Regions from separate parts of the Homo sapiens genome. Here region 2 is linked to region 1. A link means that fine-mapping ties the variant in region 1 to the expression of a gene that starts in the linked region. Tissue or cell type: pancreas. Region 1 holds a variant in brackets; the other region holds the start of a gene. All regions are shown on one strand. Distances are between the middles of the regions.

Region 1 (8,111 bases):
AAAAGGTCTTCAACTCCCATTCTTTCTCTTGGGATTCTCCCTTTACCATGTGAATAAGTCAGAGCTAGTCTTGAGGAGGAGAAGAGACCACAGGGACCAGAGGCTCATAAGCACAGTTGCCCCAAATGAGGCAGAGAGAGATGAGAGAATCCAACAGCAAAGGCCAGGAAAATCAGACCTATGAAAAATCGCAACTGAGACCAGAAGAGCTACCCCGCTGAGTCCAGCCTGTGCACAGAATCATGAGCCAAAGAGTTGTTTGGGGATGGTTTGTCTCTCTGCAAGAGATAATGGAGACAACCACAAATGTTAAAGAATAACACATTGGCTAATACCAATGATTGTTAATATGAAGTTAATTCTTCCTCAGTGTCTAGGAAGATTTGCAAAATTGTCGCAGAGTTTGACACAGCATATTCACAGCATGCATTTAATTCTATGGAGCCCAAGTATATTTTAAATAGCATAACTGAAATCACATGGTATTTAAGCAACCTATCTAAAACTTTCTAAAATTGTTTTTTTTAAAAACTCTATTTACAAAAGTGCCTTCCTTGTGAAAACATTAAATCAAGGTAAAATTCCAAGATTACTATTAATCAAAATGTGTTTATAGTTAACAGCAGTCACAAACATGCAATGTTTTAAACAGTTTAATTTTTCTGGGTACAGAGTAAATGTATATATTTATGAGGTATATGGGATATATTGATACAGGCATACAAAATATAATAATTACATTGGGATAAATGAGGTATCCATCACCTCACGCATTTATCCTTTGTGTTACAAGCAATCCAATTATACTCTTTAAAATGTACAAGTAAATCAGTATTGACTATAGTCACCCTATTGTGCTATCAGATAATAGATCTTATTCCTTCTTTCAAAATATTTTTTGTGCCCATTTAATCATCCCCTCTCCCCTTGCCCTACATTTCCCAAACCCTGGTAATCATCATTCTACTTTCTATCTCTGAGTTAATTGTTTTAATTTTTAGCTCTCACAAATAAGTGAGAAGATGAAAAGTCTGTCTTTCTGTGCCTGACTGATTTCCTTTAGCATAATGACCTCCAGTTCCATCCATAGTGTTGCAAATGACAGGGTCTCATTCTTTTATGGCTGAATAGTACTCCATTGTGTATATGTTCCACTTTTTTTTTTTTTATCCATTCGCCTGTTGATGGACACTTGGGTTGCTTCCAAGTCTTGGCTGTTGTGAATACTGTTGCAATAAATATGGGAGTGCAGATATTTCTTTTATAAAACTTTTCTTTAAGACCAATTTACTTTCTGTCTTACCTCTTGACAAAAGGCTTTTTCATCCCTATGTGGCTAAGCAATTTAAGGAAGCATTTTGTAATGAAAGGAAAGGAACATTCCCAAAAATCCATAGACTGAAGGACCTGGCCTGACTGCAAGCAAAGTTCTAGAGCAAATGAGGGGGATTCTTTTTAAGATGGTTTGGGTAAATATCGTCTTTTCTTGTTTCATGAATATGGAGAACACTGAGAACAACATTTGAAGATAATGAGGTCCTACCACCAAACTGTGTGATCCTCAAAACTAGAATCCCTCTCTCCACCAAGGAGCCACATCCCACATACCAGCTGAGGCCTCTAGATGTGGTCAATTTACAGGGATTATCTATAGTTAATCTAGGTTAGCAGGAATAAGCCTACGGTAAAGAATCCATGGCATCCGTAGTGGGCATTAGTGAAGCTCAGCTGCGTAGCTCTTTCGGTCTCAGCTGGGATATTTCACGGGTCCACCACTGTCACTTACGATGCCCAAATTAACTACAGATATTGCCATTAATGAGTCTGAGAATATTAATCTATTTTTCAGTTACAGTGACTTCACCTTTGAAAGGATATTGGGTATCAAATCAAACAGGAAGAAGGTTATAGACAAGGAAAATCTGGACATGAATATTTTAGCAGTTCATTAAAATTAGATCACAAGGCCATTCACTTTGTGTCAACTGGCATTGGCAGATGGTACTCATCTTTATCTCAATGAGTATTAGAAATAATTTTCTCTAGGACTGGAGACACTGGTCATATGATGGAGAAGGTGAGAAAGAGATAGCTTTTGTAGTCTTCTACAGCATACCTTTTATGTGGATGTCAGGAACTATTTCATTTGCCTAAATGGCTCTTTGCCTCAAATTGTGTATAGGACTTAGTATTCTGAATGTGCTACTTCCTATTTTTGTCCAGATATTGTGAGATGGTGATGACAAACTACAAGATGAATGACTAACTTGGCTCTATATGGCTGCTTTAATGGACAAGATTATACATGAAATACTAAGAGAATAAATTTTACTTCTTTTTGGGATAGTCAGTTTCTAAAGAAAATATTAATATTCATTTAACTTTAGTACCTGAAGTAACCTTTTATTTATATTATTAAGTGGTATCCTAAATATTTAATTTTCATATAAAACATGGGTTACACAGAAAATCACCTTGGCTTATTAATCTTTTTGTCCATGTTTTTAAATGTCTCTTCTTACCTAACATTAAGAAGTCTCCTTTTCAATCAGTCCAAAGTAATCTCGTCCTGTTTTCAGAGTCTTTGTATTCTCTGAAATACTGAAAAGGCATTATCCTCCCTGCAACCCTAAAAGGAATCTCCCTTCCTTGTGCCATTTAAGTACTTAGTTTGACCCTCGGAAACCTCTCTAAGTAAATGGTGAAGACTTGTTCTACATTAGCTGATTGCTAGTGTAAATTTTCCAAAAGATTTAGTACAAGAGTTTTCAGAGTTGCTTCAAATTTTCTGTAGACTGCTTAAACCTGGGTGTGTGCATGTATGTGTGTGTGCAGGCGCATGTGAGGGAGTGGTGTATATGTTATGATAAAGGTAGCATTTCACATCAGGAAATAAATATTAATCATTTAAAAACATTCAAATGTTCTCACAACAACTAGTCAATTATTTGGAAAGAGTTAAAATATTCTTAGACGACATCTCACATAACAAATGAATTACTGAAGAGCTAAAGAGGTATACTCAAACTGAATATATTGAAAACAAAGCAAAACAAAAATAAACAATTTTTCTAATGACAGAATAGAAAAATGGCCTTTTTAAGTGGACTTTTAAAATCAGTGATAAAATTAAGCATGGATAGACTTACTATTTAGATACTAAATATATCAGTGTCAAAATTCTGATAAAATCAAAAAGAGACAAGCTTAAG[A/G]TGTGGTGATCAGCTCACATACTGGAAAATATATATATGCCAGAAGAATGGCTAATATTCTTAATTCACACAGATATTATAATGTAATTTATAATGTAAGAATGAAATAAATTGAAAAGCAATGTAATTTTAACATATATAACGATCAGCTGTACTATTAATTACAGAAATACAAATGTAAGCAATGTTTTTTGAAATTAGAAATTGTTTATATCAGTATTAGGTTTTGTTGTACTTTTAAACTATAAGCTATCATTTTTATTCCTTGCTGGCCAATATGTACATTGAGCCAAATTTTCTGGAAAACAATTTCACAAGGAAGGTTCAGTACCTAAAGGTAATTTTGCCCTTTGATTAGTTCTAGGAATTTATGCAGAGAATGCAATTAGAAGTTAGCCAAATTTCTGGGTGTGGTAGCTCATGCCTATAATCCCAGCACTTTGGGAGGCTGAGGAGGGCAGATAAGTAATCTGGAGTGTGAGCCCAGGAGTTTGAGAACAGGCTGAGATACACAGTGAAACCCTGTTTCTACAGAAAAAATACAAAAATGATCCGGGTATGGTGGCACATACCTGTAGTCCCAACTACTCGGGAGACTGAGGCAGGAGGATCACTTGAGCCTGAGAGGTGGAGGCTACAGTGAGCCATGGTTATACAACTGCATTCCAACCTGAGAGAGAGAGAGAGAGGGAGACCCTCTCAAAAAAAAAACAGAAAAAAAAAAAAGCAAGAAGTTAGCCCAAATAATTCTGTTTAAGAATGTTTCTCACATTGTAATTTGTGGTGGGGGAGGACCACTTCCAGAGTCAAGAGTAAATGATAACATTTAAAATAGTAATTCGTAATGCCCTCAGACAAGGCAGTACTATGTTGAAAATCTCTAAACTATTTAAGGATAATAGGACATGATCACAGTGTATAATTATATAATAAAGTGGCTGTAAAAAAATGTGCAGTATAATGCCAATTCTATAAAAATATCTAGCTGGTTTTCATGGGGAAAATATTTAGAATGATATACAAGAGATGTTTATAGTTTTTAACACCGGGTGGTAAAATTCAAAGGACATAAAACTTAAGTATTCATAGATTTAAGCCATAAATATTATAATATCATTACCTTTTTACAATCTCATACAGCTAATAAATGACTGAGCCAGGATTTAAAATAAGATAGTCTTGTTTTCCAAACAGTTTTTCCATTTTGTTACACTGGCATGACAATAGCCATTCAGGACTTCACCTTTTTTAGCCCAATAACCATGGTAAGAAGCATTTCAGTTTCTTTGTCCTAATATGCACTGATCACTTTTGCACCAGAAGCTGTGGTAAGCACTTTATATACATTATCTAATTTAAGTTTCACAATAATTCAATGACATTAGGTAGTAATACTCTCATTTTGACAAACAAGAAAATAAGGAATTAACAGAAACGTTTATTGCCCAAGTCTGTAAGCTAGGTGGAACCAGAGCTGCACTGTGGTGTGTCTCTTTAACTGTAGACTCGGCTTTTCTGTGTCCAGTTCAATCTCTGAGATATACTCTCAGATTTATCTCTTTCCAAAACCCTGAAACATTACTCTGAAGTAAGGCAGCTCTAAATTGTGTGGCTAATTTACAACCTCCTGTAACTAGATTGACCTGTTTGTAATTTATTCTTGTATCAACAAACCCCTAAGTAAAAATAGATAATTTGTTACAAATATAATATCACTAAACCTCAACAAAAGTAGTCAAATAATAGAAAGTTTCTATTCCTTAGGATCAAATAATAATAAGTAGACTAAATATTTTCAACTGAATCTATTACAGTATGGGAACTCCCCTTACCAATCAAAATATGAAATAAGCAGCAACACCACCACCATCACAAAACAAATAAAACTGCACAAAAGCTCCTACAGCTGCCAACAGTTGTGTGTAGAGCTGCAATATGTCTATAGCAGAGGGCTAGGAAGTCATGACATGAGACGATTTACCTGAGAGAATGAAATTAGGTGAGAGATGGATTTGTTGGGGTAGATGCCTTTAGTTCCCAGAAAGACTATAAGGGGAAAAAAATGTGCCTATTTAGGAAGTCGTATTTCATATATGATACAAAGAAACAAAAAATAAGTCAAAGGTGTTTTCTCTCCCCTGACACTAATGTCTCAGTAATTAAACACATAGAGGTTTCTCGAATCACCAATTTGTTTTTCCCATGAGTACTTAAGAATTTATTTTGGAAGATATATCTCCTAAGCCTCCCTGAAGGATGTTAGCTCTAAAATGAGAGCTGCAATAACTTCTCTGCAAAAAAAGTATACATAGTTTGATGGGATGTGAAAGTAAATTCAATAAATTAATGTATGGGCATTCCAGTTAAATGGTGCAGATAATGGTTCTACTTGATATTTAAACATTCAATCAATCACAGGCTCAAATCAAATAGTTCTCTAGTTGTTCAGACATGAAAGCAGCCAGAGAAGACAGATCAGAAACCGTGTTATTTGAGCATACTGAAAGTCAAATCTACCTCCTTAATCTGTCACCTCCAAGCCCTCCAGGCTGTGAACACTGGATTGGAAGTTTCAATATTAATAATAATAATGTTAAATGATTACAACAGCTAACATTTACCAGGGATCTTAACAGGGATTTTAATGACTTCTACTTTTCTATCATCACAACTCTAAAATGTAAGGTCTATTTTTACCCCCATTTCATAGGTGAGGAAATGAAGGCTTAGATGGCTACGTAACTTTCCTGTTATCACACAGCTGGTAAGGAGGAGGCAGGAATTATATACAGGGACCATGCTGTCAAGCACTGTGCTACACTGCACGTAATGGAGGTGTGTGCAAGGGACTATAGAAACCATGAGACAAGTGAATTGGGTAGTTAGGGGTCATGTTCACATTACTGGAAAATTATGTTTATTAGGCAGCATGAATATTGTGGGTTTTTTCAATGTTTTATACTTAAGAAAATATAATAAAATTGAGGCTCCTGTGCTTAGTTAGATCCTGATAAATTTTAAAACACTTGTCCCTAGCTTGCGGCTTATAGCCCTTCATCTCCCCATGTCATCTTTCTCCATGTATTTCCGCACACAGCCTTCTTAACCTCACCAGTCAATCAAAATATGAATATTTTGAGGAATTATCACTGTAGAGAAGAAAATACCTACAGAATAAAGCACTGTTGTGTTTACTGAATAGTTTCTGACACTTCTGTTTTAAAAAACTAATTCTTGTTTTGTTTGTGGTGGTTGACTTCTTGCATGATGCAAACCAGGATTCCAGATGAGGGTTTCAGTCACGGAAACCCATTTGCTTTCATTAATCCCTTCATGCCACAGACAATTTAAACCTACATATTAGAGTAATATACCATTTGTTCTTTAACTGTTTCAAACATTGTGTGAAGTTATTTTTTCTATTTCTTGAACCTGCTAGAAAATCAATTTTAAAGCATGCTTATTAACTCAAGACCATATACATTAAGTGGTTACTTCTTAGGTTCAGTGTCTTGTCAGTTCCAATTACAAGCTGCCCTACAGAGGCATTTTTAAAACAGAAATAAATGTAATCCTCTGTTGCATCTCTTATGTGGATGTTAAGTAAATGAGGACAAAAGCATTCAATTTTATTTGCTTGTTTACCTTTAGGTGACAGTTAATTCCTGTGCTCTCAGATTACAATCATATCATTATGTGCAGCTCAGAGACAATACAATGCAATGTCAAGTTGAACACAGGCAGGATTTTTCAGAAACCACAAAGCTTTCCATTATACCTTTCTCCAGTGAACAAGAAAATGAGGCAATTTCCTTTAAAACCAGAAAAAAAAATTACAGGAATTCCTGGTGAACTCCACTCCGCTATCAAAAAAGTGTTACCTAGTTCACCGTTTAAAAAGTTAGTATTTTCCAGACCACTATTATCAAACTGAAACACACCTCCCACCTCCCATGTTAATCTGCCCAGCTCAAATGGCACATACAATAGATTATTAATAATTGACAGTAAAATCATAAAAATGTCACTGACGTTATATGATTAAATGTCACTTAGGTGACTCATGCATAGACATTAACCAATGACACATGAAAGCAGCCCCCTATTCCACCCTATAACCAACTCCTAAAATGAAATTAATAAAAAATACAGATGTTCTTATAAAGAGATGAGTTATCTTTAAAAAAAAATGATTATTCAAACTCTGGCATTTAGAGAGTAGGCTAAAAACCCTCCAGTCAAATGCTTTGTGTAGCACTCAGTATGTAACATTCTAGTTAATGGAAAAAGCAGGCGGTGAAAGGGAGAACTTTCAGTTGTCACACTGAAGAGTGCTTTAAAGAAGATTGTCATTTGAGACTGTTGTCAGCAATGAAGGATTCCAAATGCAGCTGAACTCAGAATTCTGACTGTGGTATGTTTAAAAGTGCATCAATCTAGGAATTCTATACTATTTTTCTATTTTCTTAAACATATGTAGAGAAGCCAATTGAGAGAAATTAATATTGATTTCAGAATTGGAATTGAGTGTATCTGTTATTTCAAAATACTAGATATATATTTTAAAGTAAAGTATGATCTAAATGTGTTATTTTTAAAATATCTGTGTTTATCTTGCATGTAAACCAAATATCACCTCTGAAGTTTTGTCTTTTTGAATGTATTTATTGATTTCATTGAAATAATTACAGCATCTACTCTAAAATGGTTTTTTATTCAAAAACATAAAATATATTTACCTTTAAAATATTTTCAATTTTTCTTAATAATTTTATACAATATTTTTAACTGGTTTTCATCAAAATAGAAAGTCAGAAAAACATCTGAACTTAAAGGAGCATATCTCATAGTGTTAAATGTTAAAATAAATAAATCACATCAGGTACGAAGTTCACTATG
Region 2 (8,111 bases), 140 kb before region 1:
TTGAATGTCTTATTACTAGATTACTTTCACAAATAATAAAGAGTAGTTGAGGATTATGGAAAGCCATTCATTCAGCAAATATTTATTTGCTCAGCTTTTATGTGTCAATCATCTTTTCGGCACCATGACAAATAGAAAAGTGAGTCAACCTGAAGTCTATTTTAAAGGATTTCTTCTTGACTGGTAGAAAAGTATGCGCCTACTTTCAAAAGCATACATGTATAATGCATGGTAGAAACATTATGAAAATGCCATTAAGTGATGTTATTCATGCTCGATGGAAATTGGAGAAGGCTAAATCTACATCTAACTGGCTTTGTACTCAGTAGATGTAGATGTGGATAAAATATATCTTCATACAAGAAATGTCATTGCTCCCTGAAGGAGTTTTAGGACAATCATTCCCAGTGGAGAAAACAGCAGCAGCAGCAGCAAAAGCAGACCAATAAGGAAGAAAGCAATATAGGATTAAAAGAGTTTGTAAAAGGGTCTTTGAAACAATATTGGAAAGTGCTGCAAGAAAATATGGAGCCCCTTGAATGGTAAAGCAGTGAACATGGACTTGATGATTTTTGTTTAAATAAATTAAATTGTCTATTTTTAATAACATTATTGAAGTATGATTGATATACAAAGAACTGCACATACTTAATGTACGATGAGTTTGAACATATGCAAACACCTGTCATGCAATCACTACAATCAAGGCAACAAACATATCCACAGGATGTATGGGACAAGGTAGCTGATGACAGATTAAACAACATGGATTTAATCCTATAGGCAACTTGAAATAATTATTCAGATTTTCAGCAGGGTTCTAAGATATGAACTGCTGTTTAACCCATCATCACCTCCTTTGTCCCACACATCTCCCTTCTCTTGATGCTGTCTTCTTACACAAATCATTTTGTGTTCCTGTCTCTTCAAAATGCCATGTGCTCCAAGCACTTGAGAATTAATTTTTTTAAAATTCTGTTTTGTAAGACTTCTTAAGGCTGGACTCAGAGAAGGTTGAGGCTGCTGATTTTCCTCCATGACTTTATCTTAGACACACCCATCAGTAGTACTACTTCTGAATGCTACTCGGAGCATATAGCCTGGATATCATCAGGATGAATCTACTTAATTCTGCTGTTATACTGTCACATGTGGCCAGAAACCATAGGCTTTTAGGGAGAAAATTGTTAAATTTCACTCCATTTTTCCTTTTATGATAGTATATGACTTTTTTACAGAGCTGGTTTTTGTCTTTAATATACGGAGAGAAACTAGAAGCAGGAAAGTACTGCTTTTCCATTTCTGTTACCATTTAGGCAATGAGAAGTATCATTCACAATTCCAATTTTAATTAAGGCAGTGATTCATGACCCAAAGAGGCAGAAACAGGACTCTCTCAGTCCCTTTGACAGAGCACAATACAGAGAAACTCACAACTGGCTGAGCTGAGGGACCTATTTCGAAATTCAAAGGAATAAAAAGTCTCCCAGTGATGTAAACATCAGAGTTTCTTACCTCTCTGGGGAGCAAATGTTAGCAGGGGGGCTGCAAAGTTAATTACTTAAGGAGGACAGGAGACAGGTTGTGAGTTGTGGGGAGCAAGAGCAGCAGAAACATGAAGGGGAACGAAACCCTAGGTCCAAAGAGAAAAAAGAGAAAAATTGAAGTTGTAGCAAGACAGGTATATGGGTAGGGGGGTTGAAGATCTATGCATGTAATAAGGATAAAATCAACACATATCATTGATAAAGTATGAAAATGATAAAAATATATGAAAGTATAAAAAATATTACCCTTTACTCAACTTGCAAGCATGATTACTCCAGACATTTTCGCATGTTTATTTCTAGGCTTTTTTTTTCTACTTTGGAAAACAGAGTCAAGACTGTACTGTGTATTATACATTAATCATGCCCCCTCACTAAACATTATATAAAATACACATTTTGCATGTCATTAAAATTTGGAGAAAAATGTTTGAAGCTAAAAATAGTAGGAAAAAGCAACCCAACATAGTTCATAGTTAGCTTAGCTTTCCTTAATGAGGCTACTTGCTATCCATTCTTAAACTGTCCACAATGGAAATGTCAGTCCATCAAAATGCTTCCTTTTACCCCAACACAGAATTTTTATTTTGAGTTAAAAAAGAGGGCTTTTGCTCAAACTCTTCTTTCTACACTTCCAAAACGTACTTTCTTTCTTTACACACACACACACACACACACACACACACACAGAGAGAGAGAGAGAGAGAGGAATCTTTTTCTCTTTGCACTGCCTTTCTATAAAGCAGATGGTGCTTCAAATTTCCTCGGCCCCTCACAAAGCTGTTCCTCTAGCAACCTCCCCTAAAAGACTGATTTTAAAACAAGCAAAGATGTTCTTTGAATCCCCTGCTAGTCAATCTGGCAGTCCAACCTAAAATGTTTCTAATTTTAAGAAAAGTAATTAACTTTATGACAAGATAGTTTAATCATAGCTGCACCAAGGAGGTTAGGGTGCAAGGGTGTTAGAAATAATAACAAACATTCTTTCCTTGGAAAAAAATCCAATGAGGTTCAAAATCTCAACTCATTTCTAGTTCTGGCAGATACATATTTGCCTCCTGCTGGGTTTTGGATCAGGGAGTAGGTTGGAGAAAATCAGGGATCAACAGAAAAAGATCTTAGGAAGGTAAAGGTGATACCTGTGCCTAGAAATGTGGAATAGAGGGACTTAAATTTTTTTTTTTTTTTTTTGAGACGGAGTCTCGCTCTGTTTCCCAGGCTGGAGTGCGGTGGTGCGATCTAGGCTCACCGCAAGCTCCGCCTCCCGGGTTCAAGCCATTCTCCTGCCTCAGCCTCCTGAGTAGCTGGGACTACAGGCGCCCGCCACCGCCCGGCGAGGGGACTTTAATTCTTTTAACTAGTCCTGCTGACCAGGGATTGAATTAAAGTTTAAATTTCAAAAATATTTCTGATTCTAAAACCGGTGATTTAAAAGGGGGTTTTAAACATTTAAATGAGATCTACAGGGGTCATAACTGACTAGTAAGTATTGGGTGTTAGTTTTCTGCCATTCTTAAATTCATTGTCTAATCCTCACGTAGGAGAATTGGGTTGCATTAGAATCAATGAGTTGGTTCACATCAGAATGATCTGTAAGCTGAGTTCTATCAGAATTTTAACTCTGGATGAACAAAATTTAAAAAAAACATCCTCGAGCAAGTCATTTATTCTTCTCGGTTTCAATGCCCTCATCTATACAATATCTGTATTAAAAGCCCTTACGGAGACAGTCTCTGAACTGTGTTTTAGATCTTCATTTGGAGGTGAACTCACACTGAGTTCATTGTCTGTAACCAAGTATTTCTTCAATGCCTGCATACTGAGCTCTTATTGAATGCTCAGCATTTCTTTCTGGAAAGACCATTATGATACATTAAAGAAGGTAGCACATTGTTTGCTCTTCCTCCCACTGAGAGTAGAATCCAATTTCGCTTTTTGCTTCAGATGACTTTAAGACCAGTTACTGAACAATCAAGAGAGACTCTGAGAGATAACTGCCTGTCTGAATCTAGCCCACCTGCAAAATCCATAAGTAATAATAATAAATTTTAGTTTACAGCTTAGTTTCAGGGTAGTTTGTTATGCATCCATAAATAATTGGAGCATCTGTTTGTTCAAAGCTATATTCCCCTCATTCTTTTGTATCATGCACCACAGATGAATCAAACAGCATACAATAATAACTCAATATTTTTGAGGTATCGAAAGTTTGGAAATTTCTGCATATTTTTTATCTGCTTTTATTTGGATTATTCACCTGATTCTGAGTTGATTCCATAAAACTTCAAAACTGAGGAAGCAACGGACTCTCACGATGTGTCTGTTCAATAACATCTTACATCTTCCAGGAAGAACTTAGGGCTTTGAATCAGGGAGCAGAGATAGATGGAGGAAAGGAGATCCTACTGAAAAATGTGTTCAGCTAGCTTCTGGTCCTATTTTGGCCACTGCAGTTTGGTCTTTCAAAAGTTACTTCAAAGTGGGAGCTGAATGATGAGAACACACGGACACAATGGGGGAACAACACACACTGGGGCCTGTTGGAGGGGGAGGGAGAGCATTAGGAACAATAGCTAATGGCTGCTGGGCTCAATACCCGGGTGATGGGGTGATCTGTGCAGCAAACCACCATGGCATACGTTTACCTATGTAACAAACCTGCGCATCCTGCACATGTACCACGAACTTAAAATACATGGTGAAGATATAAATAAATAATAAAATAAAACTTCTCAAACTAAACAAAAAGAGTTACTTCACTTCTTTGGGTATCGGGTGCCTTCTCTTTCAAATAAGGTGTTGATTTATGTGGTCTTGAGAAATCTTTGTTGCTCTGATCTTAAGTTTCTTTTTATAATATTAGAATCATAGTTTACCTACATTACAGGGCTTTTATGAAGATTAAATCGAGCATCGTGGGTAGTGTTTTTTCAGCCCCTGTGACTAAGTAGGTTATAAATGGTCCTCAGTCATCATCATCATAAATGATTCAAGGCCTGAATGGCAGAAGAAGAAGAGGAAAACTCAAGTGAAAAGTGCTAGACATAGAACACAGCTTACCTAATAAAACATGCTACTGGCTAACTAAGCTGGGGTGGCTTTCTGCCCCCTCTACTTAAATTTAAGAAAGAAAAACAGAAACGTCTCTGCATCTGCCACTGCATACCCTCTCAGAGCACAGACCAACTTTGCCCTTCCTTAAAAGTCCCAGGGTTTACCTACCAACTTTTAGGAAATAAATAACCAGCCTCAAAGCTTGGCAAAGAGGGCATCAGTATCAGCTCTAGAGGTTTGCTCCGATTTATATCTCCTCCTCCAGTAAAGTCTTCTGCTCCCACTCCCAGCCAACCCCGCTCAACGCCCACCCCTCACTGTGGCACTGGACGCGCGGGGGATGCGGGGTTGTTCCCAGAGTAGCCGCTAAGGGGAGCCGGACGCTAGACCGCCCTCCCGCGTTCCCATGACAACGACACCGGCGGGCGCGTAGCCTGGAGAGCGAAGTGCCGGCTACAGCAGGTGTCGGATTGCAGTGCGCTCGCTGAGGCTCCGGACCTTGGAGCGTCTAGAGTCTGGCTACTGTTCCTCCGCCTCCCTCTCGGGCAGCTCCCTAAGCCGGCTGGGACGCGCAGAGTGAAAATGGTCCACCATTCAGGCTCCATTCAGTCCTTTAAACAGCAAAAAGGTCAGTTGGAATCTTGCTCCCCTCTCCCTGCGGGCGTCACTTCCCCCCTGCATGCCCTTGCAGTTGTGTAGGAGCATCCTTTGCAGGCTTATGCGACACAGAGGTGGGGAACTCTGTGAAGTTAAAAAAAAAAAAAAAATTAAATTCCTCTTCACTCTGCATCCTAGATGAGTGATTTTCTGAGCCTCCGCACAGTGCCTGGGAGTATCGGAATTCGTCATTTCAGGACTTGACTTAATGTATATCTCTGTGAAGACTGTTTCAATGCACTGCAGTAAACCCGCTTAGTAGGGATTGTCCGAATAGCTCAGTAGAGCTCTGAGGGGTGAGGACAGAAATGTTCAACAATATCTGCCGTCTTCTGTGGTTCAAATGTTGAGTAATCTTCACAAAAGTGTGTCTACTCCTTGAGACGCATTTACACAATCATAAGATAAATGAATTCTTGGGGGAGTTCCAGAGTTGGCCTGTTGCAGTTAAAGGGGCTCTGTCACTTCCTTGGGAAAATTTATTGTTTGCCCATGTCCCATGCTTGATTCTGGGTTTCAAGTTCTTGAGGTTAGGTTTCTCTTCTAGGGGCTTCGTATTATGTCTTTTAGTTTCTCCCTCAAGTTTCTTGCTGGGCATAGTGACAAGAATCTGTATGTTCAAGTTATCCTCACTCTTTGATCTTTGTTTCTTATTTGGTTTAAAAGGCTTTTTACAGAGCATTTTTATTTTGAGGCACATTCACAGTTTTTGGAGTTTTATTATCCAGAAGCATTAATTAACACAATTGCCACTTTGCTGAATTAATAATGGTAATTATGATACAGTTAACCATAGAGTGCCTTAGATGTGTGAATTCTGGAATGCTGAATTTGTTCATTCAAAGTAAATATTTACTTAAATATTCTCATCCCCACCCTCCAGATATTATTTGTATTTCTTTCATCAACAGTTGTTTTTATGTAGCTCTTTGACTTTTTTTTTTTTTTTGAGGTGGAGTCTCGCTCTGTTGCCCAGGCTGGAGTGCAGTGGCGCGATCTCGGCTCACTGCAAGCTCTGCATCCCAGGTTCATGCCATTATCCTGCCTCAGCCTCCTGAGTAGCTGGGACTACAGGCGCCCGCCACCAAGCCCAGCTAATTTTTTTGTGTTTTTAGTAGAGACGGGGTTTCACCGTATTAGCCAGGATGGCCTCCATCTCCTGACCTCGTGATCCGCCCGCCTTAGCCTCCCAAAGTGCTGGGATTACAGGTGTGAGCCACTGTACCCGGCCCTTGACTTTTTTGTTTGTTTTTAACAAAAACTAGATTAACACACAAGAAACAATTTCGAAGGGATTCCTGCGTAAGACAGAATATGGGACTGACTGAGTTTCCAGTTCCATAATTCTGTACTCAGTTCAAGCCCAAGTTCTCTAGGATGTTTCAAATATATGTTGAAATTGGGAGTGATGTGTGAGACTGTAGGGGTAGACAAAAATTTCACCTAGTATGCACTTCTACTTCAACTCTAAACATTTCAAATAAAGTTAAACTGCTTCAAGAAGTTGTGTTCTCTTTAATCATGGTTTTAAACATACATAAACTTTCAGAATGAAGACAAAGATGATAGGAACTTTGCAACAGCCTCACAGAATAAATACCTCCACTGATGCATTGGCTATGGGTGACTCATTTCTGGGATCTGGAAGCTTCAAATGGCCCCCACAACAATGTATTATGTATGGATACATGTTGTGTTTTTAAGAAGGAAATAATTGACAACTGTAGGTCCGACCGTCATTGCTCAAAGAGAGTGATAAGAAATTGTGCAATTGCTGGCATTTCACATTGTTTCCTTTATGATGCATTATGAGCCATTTAATTTCAAGTCTTCCTTTACTCTTTGGCACAAAAGGCAACTTCAGCAAAAGGATACAAATCTAGAGGAGGAGTACTCCGGTAGGAAGGAAGCAAGATTCATTTTAGCTAAGTGGTTCTGGTTAATGGCTTCTTAATCCTGCATGGGCATTAGGAAAAAAACAGACCAAATTGAGGATTAGCTATTTTTATTCTTCAAATAGGAAGAAGCAAAATAATTCTCTAGATGTGATCTGTCCTAGGAGGTATGCAACAACAACAACAAAACATTCAGATGTGCTTTTCACCATAAAATTAACCTGAAAATTGCACATTAAAATGGAGAAAATTCTGTAGTGGAACTCTGTACTCCTAGGTTCTAAGCTTGCGTTTGTTACTAGCTGAGAAATCTTCAACAAAGTGGTTAATTTCTTTGGACTTTGCTTCATACATAACATGAACAGAATACATTCCTAATCCCTTTGGCCTTTTCTGTCTCTCTTCCTCTGTTTAATGGGAGGGACGGTTTGCATATGAAGGCAGAGATGATTTCTTCTGTGACCAGATAAAGAGGAGAGCCTTGCTTTTAGTTTACTTTTACGAATTAATTTAGCTGAAAAATCCAGTTGATGGAATTTACTTTTGTTTTATTCAAGTGAGCTCAATGTCTCTTTTAAAAATTTTGATTTCAACTTGAAAATATCTAGAAATAGCCTGATATAACTAGAAATCACCCTTGTTATATTATTTTTAAAGTTTCCACCCTTAATTGAAAAACAGACACACTCAATATTTAAACTCTACACAAGGCATAGGGATTCTCCTTTATATATGAGAACTATGTATTAACCAATCCCCGATCAAAATTGGTTTTGATAGGTAAGTATAAGTATAGTATAGATAAGTATAGATGCCAGACTGGTTATCTGGGAAATGAAATACTGTATGTAAGCCCTAATTTATTAATTTAATCTCTGGTCTTTATTTTGAGCCCTGGATATTAATCCAATATATTCTACTTACAGGTTATGTCATTTAATATCACTAAGCCACAGTA

Alleles and levels. Positions count from the first base shown, and alleles are read on the strand shown. Sizes are in standard deviations (SD) of each study's normalised expression.
In carriers of allele G in region 1, the expression in pancreas of the gene that starts at base 5,038 in region 2 tends to be higher than with A alone (large effect, 1.0 SD a copy in GTEx).

The links. PIP is the estimated chance that this variant, and not a neighbour inherited with it, causes the effect.
Region 2: it holds the start of ANO3, and the variant in region 1 is fine-mapped to the expression of ANO3 in pancreas (GTEx, PIP above 0.99).

Annotation. Positions count from the first base shown.
Region 1 is chr11:26,466,503-26,474,613 of GRCh38, forward strand. All of the region lies in intron 4 of ANO3 (anoctamin 3), which reads left to right. Among named protein-coding and RNA genes, the nearest start is that of MUC15, 100 kb to the right of the region's middle. The variant A/G (reference allele first, on the strand shown) is at 3,213.
Region 2 is chr11:26,327,093-26,335,203 of GRCh38, forward strand. ANO3 (anoctamin 3) reads left to right here and starts at 5,038. Exons shown (of 27, transcript NM_031418.4): 1 at 5,038-5,229. The coding sequence starts at 5,184. LOC105376598 (a long non-coding RNA gene) reads right to left here and starts at 4,882. Exons shown (of 3, transcript XR_931138.3): 1 at 4,770-4,882; 2 at 4,428-4,543; 3 at 1,161-1,633.